Linked DNA regions of Homo sapiens: region 1 is linked to region 2. A link means that fine-mapping ties the variant in region 2 to the expression of a gene that starts in the linked region. Tissue or cell type: cultured neurons. Region 2 holds a variant in brackets; the other region holds the start of a gene. All regions are shown on one strand. Distances are from middle to middle.

Evidence for each region. PIP is the estimated chance that this variant, and not a neighbour inherited with it, causes the effect.
Region 1: it holds the start of SYN3, and the variant in region 2 is fine-mapped to the expression of SYN3 in cultured neurons (Aygun 2021, PIP 0.95).

The regions. Positions count from the first base shown.
Region 1 is chr22:33,055,895-33,061,123 of GRCh38, forward strand. It overlaps SYN3 (synapsin III), which reads right to left and starts at 2,487. Exons shown (of 14, transcript NM_003490.4): 1 at 2,398-2,487.
Region 2 is chr22:33,079,295-33,084,523 of GRCh38, forward strand. It overlaps a transcript of LARGE1 not described here. Among named protein-coding and RNA genes, the nearest start is that of SYN3, 24 kb to the left of the region's middle. The variant C/A (reference allele first, on the strand shown) is at 2,986.

The sequences.
Region 1 (5,229 bases), 23 kb before region 2:
TCAATACACATTGATTGATTAATTAGTGGATGAATGAATGATTAATCAATCAATCCACCAATGAAAGCACTTTGGAAAGTGTAACAAATCATAGAGTTGTGAGTGATTGTTATTATTATAATTATTATTTTGTGGCAAAAGAACATCAACTTGGTTGGGTTTTGGAAGAGACTGGGTTTACTATAAAATGAGAATAAAAGTACCTAAGTTGGAGTATTATTGGACAACTAGAAGAGAATGTATATACATAATAGACACTCAAAAAAGGGAAGCAGTAGTCTTCGTGGCTATTATTATTAAAAGCTCCTCACAAAAGCTGACTCAACTCGAATTCCAAAACTCATTTTCAGGTGCAGTCATGAAACTTAAAGGTGAGAGAAATGAATACTTTTAAGATATCTACTATGCACCAGGCACAGTACAAAGCACTACTTCATTTGTGAGGTAGTGTAGTGGATACCGTGGGGAAATGCTCAACTCCCCCTCCAAGACCAAGACACTCATGACTTCCCCATGTCCAGCTGCCAGAGTGTTGGTTACCCCAGCTCCCAGGTGAGTCCCTAGTCAGGAACTGTCCTGCTGAAGGGACATCCTAGCTCCCTCCCTAGGACCAGCCTGCACCCACTGGCTGATCAACATTAAGCTTCAAAGGCCTCGTCTCTTTGTCTCATGGGAGGGATTGAGACCTCTCTTGCACTGCACCATAGATCAACATCTCCCTCTGCCCAGTTCTGCTTCCCTTATCTGCACAAAAATCTCAGAAGCGCCAAGTCTTTTTCCAGGGAACCCAAACCATGACAGGTGAGTACAATGATTTCCTTTTAAATCAGAAAAAGAAGGTTCATGAAGGTTGCTAATGTCCCCAAAGCCTATGGCTAAAGTGACTTTCTGGTCTGATTTCCCAGCGAGCCCTTGTTCTTTCTACTACACCAATCTACACACAGCCTTGCCTCCAATGGCTGAGACTGGATCTCTGTGAAACAGAAAGGGGAGCCCAGGCAGAGGGGAAGGGCACACAGAGGGCTTGAAGATGAGAAAAGAAGAGCAGAGGCACCCTTCAGAGGCCTGATGACAAGACTGAGGTCACAGGCTCCAGAAACAATATCAAAATGATGTGCAGGCTGCAGAAGCAAGCATTACACGGGCAGCATCTCTTTGCCTGAATCCATGTCCAGAAGCCAGGGAGCAGGGCTCCCGGGCAGAGGGGGCTCCCTTAAGCAGGGAAGAGTATTTGCAGCCAAGGACCAGAAAACAACTACAACTTACCAGCTTTCTGATGCTCCGGCCTCCATCCATTGTCCCCAGAGCTGCCAGAGGGACCTGATCACTGATCAGAATTCTTCCACGGCCCTCCTTCATTCCAGGATAAAATTCTAAATATTCTAAGGCTGCACTTTAAGGTCTGTGCAGGTTTTAGCTTCCTGCCATGTCGAGAGCTCATTTCCTACCTACAGCAAGACCCGGTCCTACTCCATTATCTGCTGTAGAATTATCTGATGTGCTAGGTCAGGACACCGGACCTTTTCAGTTTCTTTACCTTTACACAAGAAAACCCACCTGGAATTCCTGCTCCCTATCAACTCACAGTCCCAACACACTTTTCAGCCTGGCAAAACCTCCGACTTCCAGTCAATGCTCACCTCCTCTCTGAAACCTTCCTGGCTTCCTCACCGTCCTCTTCTCCATCTCGAGTCTTCCGCACTACCCTGCACTGCAATTGCTCCTCCTACTGTCCCTCTTAGCCCCAGAAGCTCCCCAAAGGCCATTCTTCATGCTGCTAGGGCTTGGCACAGTTCCTGGCACTCAGAAAAAGCCAAGTAAGTGCTGGATAGATACACGAGGTGCTGTATCCATAGCTATTCTCTGCTTCTAGCTTGGCCAGGAAACCACTCTGAAATTTCATCCTGCCCCCAGGATGACTGGAAATCGGAAATGGCATGACAAACCTGACCTCCCAAACCCAAGGCAACAGGTCATGAGGGGTCTGGGGACCTAAGGCAGGTCCTAGGAGCCGGCGCAGAGCAGAGGTCCGGCCGCTGCGGTTCCTGGTTTCCCGCAAGCTCTTCCCCGGGCCGGGCGCTGGGTGGAGGCAGTCTTAGGATCCACAGTCTTGCGCGCCCCCGGCTCCCGGGCCCGGCAGACGGCCCCCGCACGCCGATCTGTCTGTCCCAGGGACCGGCCCAGGGCCCCGGCAGCGGCAGCCTGGGGAGACACCGTGGTGCGCGGCTCCTTGCCTCCCTCCCTGCCCCTCCGTGCGCCCGCATCCCGCGGACACAGAGCCGGAGCTCCAGGGGACGCAGCCCGACGCGAGAACGCACCAGCAGCCCCCGCTCGAGGTGGGGTCTCCCGGCTGTCAGAAACCCCACAAAGTCTACTTTGCGGCGCCGCGCCGCTTACCGTGCGAGCCGCCAGGAACTCGGCGCCCGGTGGTGCCTCGGCGCGGCGCCCGCCAGTCGATCCGCTCCGGGTCCCGGGAGCTCAGCCTCTGCCCCTCAACGCGCGCGAGCGCCCCCGCCCGGCGGCCCGGCCTCCCCGCGCCGCGGCGCCCCATTGGCTCGGGCAACGAGGCCCCCGGACGGCCCCGCCCACCCGCGCCCACTCCCTCGCCCACGCCTCTCCCCAACGCCTTGCTGGGTTCACCTCTCCAGGCAGGGAAAGTTGCTTCTAGACTCTGAGCTCTCACCGGACTCAGGAGCCCAGTTAGCTAATAATTCTGGGTCCCAGGAGTGTCTAGACGCCCCTCGGGGAGTGCGAAGAATGCAGTGTCCTTGGAATCCACCTTTGGGAAAGTCAGCTGACCTCCCGGACCTCAGGTGGCACCTCAGAGAAACCAGGGCCCCTTGTCAGGAAATGTCCCAGGTTGTGGGCTAGGCCCTAGGGCCAGGATGCAACAGGGAACAAGACAAAGTCTATCGTCCTCGTGGACTTTGCATGGGGTGGAGGTGGGGGTAGGTTATATACAACAAACGAAAAAAACAAGAGAATGTCGGCTGGGTGCCTGTGGCTCACGCCTGTAATCCCAGCACTTTGGGAGGCCGAGGCAGGTGAATCACGAGGTCGGGAGTTCAAGACCAGCCTGGCCAAGATGATAAAACCCCGTCTCTACTAAAAATACAAAAATTAGCTGGGCATGGTGGCCCTCACCTGTAGTCCTAGCTACTCGGGAGGCTGAGGCAGAATTGCTTGGACCCGGGAGGTGGAAGTTACAGTAAGCCGAGTTAGAGCCACTGCACTCCAGCCTGGGCAACAGAGCTAGATGCCGTCTCCAAAAAAAAGAAAAGAAAAAGAAAGGGGTCTAGGACTGCTATACCTAGGGTGGTCTCCGGGCCGCTTGTGATATTGGATACTTGGAGGACAAAAACGATTCCAGGGCTGAAGCAAGAGCATTGCTGACAGAGGGGTCGGCCGATGCATGGTTCTGAAGCTGGAACTGGCCCCCAGGGTGGCTGAGTGAGGTGAGCAAGGGGAGAGTGGGTTACAGCCAGAGAGGTAGACTAGTGTGGAATCACCATCACCCAGAACCTTGTAGGCCACCGTGAGGGTCAGGGCTTTGTCATATCAATCTGGAGGGAACAATTCAGGCAAGAGATTATGGTGATGAAGACCAGGGTGGTGACAGCAAGATACGGAAAAGGTGGACCTCCTGCAATGTGTGTCAAAAGTAGCACAGGAAGGCTTGATGATGGATTAGGCTGGATTTAGGGGATGCTATGGTTTAAATATGTTCCCCAAAGTTCATATCTTGGAAACTTAATCCCCAATGCAACAGTGTTGAGAGGTGGGACCTTTAAGAGGTGATTCCATTAATGCCAGGAGTGGCCCTCTCCCCACCCCTCTGCTGCTCTCTTGTTCTGCCTTGTGCCATGGGGTGACTCAGCATGAAGGCCCTTACCAGATGCAGCCCCTCAATCTTGGACTTCCCAGCCTCCAGAGCCATGAGCTAAATAAATTGTTGTTCCTTATAAATTACCCAGTCTGTGATATTCTGTTATATTGGCACAAAATAGACTATGACAGGGGTTGACGTAAAGGGATGAAAGAAGAAAATCTCCTAGGTGTTTAGCTTGAGCCACTGTGGAGTAATGGTACTATTTCCAAGATCGGGAAGGTTCTTACCCAGCATCTTCCACTTACTGCATGAGCGTTAGTACATGATCTCAGTAACTAAGAGGGAGTGACTCTAACCTCAGTAACTAAGAGGGCATAAGACTAGCTGAAGGATCACAAACTTTAATACCGACGTGGCCGGGTAGTCATGTACTAAGTGAGGTTGGCAGGGTATAATAGAAAGGAGGGATGGGGCTTGTGACAGACTGAGGTATGCACACCTGCCTAAGGTGACAGTCACTGCTCAGCTCCAACTGATTTTTGCCATATGTGAATGGAGACCCACCCAGAGTTGCCAGATGTTCTGTTTTTTGTTTGTTTGTTTTTTATCGAGACTGAGTCCTGCTCTGTCACCCAGGCTAGAGTGCAGTGGTGCGATCTCAGCTCACCGCAACCTCCGCCTCCCTGGTTCAAGCAATTCTCCTGCCTCCCAAGCAGCTGGAATTACAGGCGCCCACCACCACGTCTGGCTAATTTGTGTATTTTTAGTAGAGACAGGGTTTCACCATGTTGGCCAGACTGGTCTCGAACTTCTAACCTCGTGATCTGCCCACCTTGGCCTCCCAAAGTGCTGGGATTATAGGCGTGAGCCACCACACCAGACCCTGATTTTTATTAAGAGGCCAGAAATTCAGATTATGTTAAATCTCTGGTTTTTTTAAATGCTGGTAATTAACTACAACTTTTTTTTTTTTTTTTTCTGAGACGGAGTCTCGCTCTGTCGCCCAGGCTGGATTGCAGTGGATTGTCGAGATTGCAGTGGTGCAATCTCGGCTCACTGCAAGCTCTGCCTTCCGGGTTCACGCCATTCTCCTTCCTCAGCCTCCCAGGTAGCTGGGACTACAGGCGCCCGCCACCACGTCCAGCTAATTTTTTGTATTTTTAGTACAGATGGGGTTTCACCGCGTTAGCCAAGAGGGTCTCGATCTCCTGACCTCATGATCCGCCCGCCTTGGCCTCCCAAAGTGCTGGGATTGCAGGCGTGAGCCACTGCACCCAGCCAATTAACTAAAACTTTTTAAAAGACTGTATTGGCCAAGACTGTTGGACAAGATCAAACCCATGTATGGGCTGGATTTATCCCCTTAGGGACTATTTCCACCTCTGGATTAGACAATACCT
Region 2 (5,229 bases):
TCGGCTCACTGCAAGCTCCGCCTCCTGGGTTCACGCCATTCTCCTGCTTCAGCCTCCCAACTAGCTGGGACTACAGGCGCCCGCCACCACGCCCGGATAATTTTTTGTATTTTCAGTAGAGATGGGGTTTCACTGTGTTAGCCAGCATGGTCTCGATCTCCTGACCTCATGACCTGCCCGTCTTGGCCTCCCAAAGTTCTGGGATTGCAGGCGTGAGCCACCACACCTGGCCATCTAGTTATCATTCTTATTACCTACAACTTTTATTATTTTTGATGCCTATTAACTCCTCACTGCTATGTTACTGATAAGATAGACTAGACTGGATCACACTCTATTATTTGTTTTCAAGTGTCTCTAAGCTTTTCAGAGGTACCAACCCAGTTCGTTTAAGGAAACTCTAGTTTCCTTACAAAGTTGGTTGGCAATAAATGAGTTGTCCATTCTGCTTAGAAGAACCTAGCAAGTAGTGCTGCTTGGAACTTTCCCCTTAAGACATAATTTTACTCTGAGCCCCCAAGAAAAGAAGAAGGAAGGAAAAGATGAACAGGAATGACCCGTTGAGGGCAAAACCCATGAAAATTGATCATGGCTCTTTTCTCCGACAATGGCATCATTGGCCTGGCAGAGCACAAGAGAGCTATCAGGGGGACTGTCCTCTTGCATGTGCTCAGGAACTTGTCCTCATTGCCTCCAGGTGCTGGGTTTCTTAGAGCCAGAGGTGGCAGGCATGTGGAGGGAAGGCTTCTGTGGATCCTCCCCTCTTCCTCTCAAATGTTCCTTTGTAGATTTAAGAATTAAAAAGTGCAGTAAAATTTGTTTTATAATTATAGCCCCAGGAAACATGAGTTTTAGTCTTAGCTTCGACATTCACTGAGTAATAATTATTGCAAGCACTTATGTAGTGTCTACTATGTGCCAGATGTTTTTGAATCATGTTACTTGCATCACCTCATTTAATTCTTACAAGAGCTCAGTAAGTTGGTATATATGTGTATTTGTCAAGCTTAGCTAGGTTATGCTGTGATAACAAACAACCACCAGATCTCAGTAGTTTGTTTCTCACTCGTGCTCTTTGTTCGTTGTAGGTTCATGGGAATTCCGTTCCACTCTGTCTTCACCCCAGGATGCAGGCTAAGAAAATGACCTTCATACAGAATGTTTCAGATTTTATGTCAGAGAACAGGAAAGGGCAAATCTCACATTAGCTCTTAAAAGTTTCCACAAGGGGATGACACAGACACTTCAGCTCACATTTGATATCCAGACCTAACTTCACGTGGGCATGGAACACATGGCTTATGTGCCTAGAAGTGGAAGAATCAGAATACTGGTGAACAGCTCTAATGACTAATATCATATATAATTATTAGCAGCATTTTGCAGATGAGGACACTGAAGAACAGAGAGATTAAGTAACTTGCCCAAAGTTACATAATTTATAAGTGGTAAAGCTGGGATTTGAATTCAGGCAGTTAGCTCCAGAGAATACTCTTAACTGCTGTCCATAAGCCTTTTCTGAGGCACTGAACCTCGGTTCAGTTTACCCATCTGTAAAATGGGAAAAGAAACTTTTCTTCTATGCCTTACAGGGATGCACTCAAAAGTCATCCATCCATCCATCTATCCATCTGCTCATCCGTTCATCCATCTGTCTTCCATCCATCCATCCATCCATCCATCCATCCATCCATCCATCCACTCTTGTAGTAATTGGCACACAGTTCTGGACTGAACTGTTTTGCCTCAGAATTCATATGTTGGATCCCTATTCCCCAGTGTGAGGTATGTGGACATAGGGCCTTTTGAAGGTAATCACTCTCTCTTTGCCATGTGACAGCATAATGAGAAAGTGGCCATCTACTAGTCAGGAAGAGAACGTTAACCAGGAACTGAATTAGCTGGCACCTTGATCTTGGACTTCCCAGCCTCCAGAACTGTGAGAAATAAATGTCTATTGTTTAAATCACCCAGTCTATGCAGCAATCTATAGCTGCCTGAACAGATTAATACTGATACAATAGAAAGTAACTGGAGAAGATTCTTTGGATTAGGATGTCAGGGAAGGACCATCTCCAGAAGTAACCTGTGAGCTAAGTTTTGCATGTGAAGACGTAGGGAGGAGAAAGAATGATAAGTAAAAGACTGAGGCAGGAATGAGCATGGCATCTTTGAGGAATAAAGGGAGTCAGAGTAGCTGGAATACAGTGATGAGGAAGAAAACAGTAGGCAATACGGGTGCAGGGGGAAGCAGAGGCCAAGTCATAAAAGAAAGATAAAATATACCAGGGATTTTTTCAAACTTTTTGAGAGATTAACCCTTTTTGAGAATCTGCTGAAAACTATGGACATGCTCATCAGAAAAGACCACATTCATATGACATTTTGCATAAAATACCAGAGGTTTTGTAGCCTTCTACCCTCATGTCTATCCAGAACCTAGACTGGGAACATCTGACAAATATAAAGACACTTTGAATAGCACATAGGGAAAGGGAGGGGAGAAAGAGATTTTCATTGTCTGCAAGCTTTCTCTGTGCTGGGAATTCTGCCAGTTATGATAGATTAATTATTTAACATTTTCCATGATCCCATTTTATAAATGATAAGATTCAGGGAGATTCAGGGAGGCTAAGCAATATGCTTTAGGCTAAATGGGTAATAGACAAAGAATTTAAATCGAGGTCAGCTTCACTCCATAGATAATATTGTTGTTATTGTCGTTGTTATTATTATTATTATTAGGTGTAGGGTCTAGTTTTACCCTGCCAAGGGTATTTTAATTATTTGGTGGAGGCTCTACATTTTCAACCAGCCAAGAGTATCCATTTCCTTTTCACTGGCTCTAGTTGAATAGCAGAGCAGCTCAGATTCTAAGTTTCCATTTCTCTACTGCCGCACTGATTATAATGTCGGCCTTTATTACTCCCAGCAGAGCAGTGAAATACAATCCCTACACCACTACCAATTAAGGCAGCTTCAATT[C/A]TATCTACATGTTCTTCCTCTGTGCAGATGCCAGCAGATCTGTTCCAAGACCCTTCCGGTTGTTTAGTATTCTGCTCAGAGGAGTCATTTGCTGATCATCTTCTTTCTTAATTAGGGATCTAATGTATTGCAGCTGACCCTTGAACAAGAGAAAGATGGAGACCTGGCTGGAAAGGAGGTGTGACCATTCATTTCAAGGTAATCAGCTTTGAAGCTGCTTGACATCTGCTATTGATTTTCTTGTGCCTGGAAAACCTCCTGAGAAAGGTTTCTGATCTCAGAAGTCTGAGCAATCTACGCATTTACTTATTCACTCACTGTGCAAGGCCAGGAAATGGCCTGCAATGAAATGAGCAGAGAAATACCTTCTCTGAAAAACCAAATGCATGGGAATGATTTCAAAGCTCCTTCCGGACCACAATGAAGGAGAGATAGTTAGCAACAGACAAGTTCCCTCCCCTCCATAAAGCCTTATACAGAAACTAATACTTAATAAACTACCTTGGGAGGCTGAGGTGGGTGGATCATGAGGTCAGGAGATCGAGACCATCCTGGCTAACACGGTGAAACCCCATCTCTACTAAAAATACAAAAAATTAGCCGGGCGTGGTGGCGGGCACCTGTAGTCCCAGCTACTTGGGAGGCTGAGGCAGGAGAATGGTGTGAACCCGGGAGGCGGAGCTTGCAGTGAGCTGAGATCATGCCACTGCACTCCAGCCTGGGTGACACAGTGAAGACTCCGTCTCAAAATAAAAATAAAAATAAAAATAATAAACTACCATTTACAGTAGACACTCTAAATATATCATTTCTAATATCAAAACACTGTTGGTTTTATTGCCTTTTCTTATGAATGGGGAAATTAAGGCTTAGAGATGTGAATTACTTTGCCCAGTGTCACACAGCAAGTAAATACCTGAGGTGGGGAGGAAAACCCATGTCAATGTGAGTCTCAAGTCTCTGTTCTTTCACTATGCTAGGCTGCCATAATTTTCTAGGTATGCATTTGCCTTCCTTGACTTTTCACTTGTTGTAATTTTGGGCCAGTTAAGTCAGCATCATTCAGAGATAGGGACTCCCTGCTGATGGAATTTGTCTTCCTTAGGTGTCATATCCAAGTAATTACAGAGTGCAGTAGAGCTAGATTACAATACTACACATTGTCAGTAGGTGTCACTATCTTATCTAATGTGATTATTTGTTCAAAAGTACTCACTGAGCACTTGCTATATGAAAGTCTCTAAGGATATAGTCATGAACTGACAGAGTCTCTGTTTCACTCAGCTTACATTTCAGTAGGGGAAAGTCTGAACCATGAAAAAATATATAATATATCAGATAGTGATCAGTGGAATAAATAAATGCTGAGATTTAAGGCTAAATTAATCAGCTTTGTGAGTTCGAAGTGTGTTGAATGAGGGAGGACTGTCTCTAGTGACACGAAACCAGCTGCCACACAATGTAAGAGGTCATCTCTTGAGAAAGGTCCCTGCCACTGACTCAGTTCAATCAAGCAATGAAAATGATCAGTACTCCCACTTCCACAGTGAAACAGATTGGGAAAGGAAAACCTCCCAGCAAGAGTTTACAGGGTTTACTGCCTGAGTGCTCTACTTAAAACCCTTAGCTGTCACCTATAGAATAAGTCCCAATCTTAGCACAATCTACCAGGCCCCTCATGATCTAATTTGCCTCTTCAGCCTGATCTCCAGCCATATCTTCCTTACACTTTACACCCCAGTAAACCAGAACTGCTTTTTGTCTCCCACATGAGTTTGCTACTTCACTCCTATAGCCCATTGTTGAAAATGACCATTCCATTGGAAAGTCATGTTTATTTTTTCTTATTTATTTAATCTCTACTCCTCTTTTAAGATCAAATTCAGTTATCGCCTCCTCAAAGAAGTCCTCCTTGGTTTCCCCAAGCTGAGTTAGGTACACTCTCTGATACTTCTTCAGCATCTTTGAATTCCATCCCTTGACTTCCATAATGTTTTATGATTGGCTGTTTCTGTGTTTAGTTTTCTGCTTGAAGGAAGGAACTAGGTCTTATTGATGTCTATACCCTCATTGCTGTCTGATAGAAATATAATGCAAGGTCAGGCACAGTGGCTCATGCCTTTAATCTCAACACTTTGGGAGACCAAGGTGGGAGGATGGCTTGAGCCCAGGAGTTTGAGACCAGCCTGGACAACATAGTGAGACCTTGTCTCTCGAAAAAAAAAAAAAGCCTGGTGTGGTGGC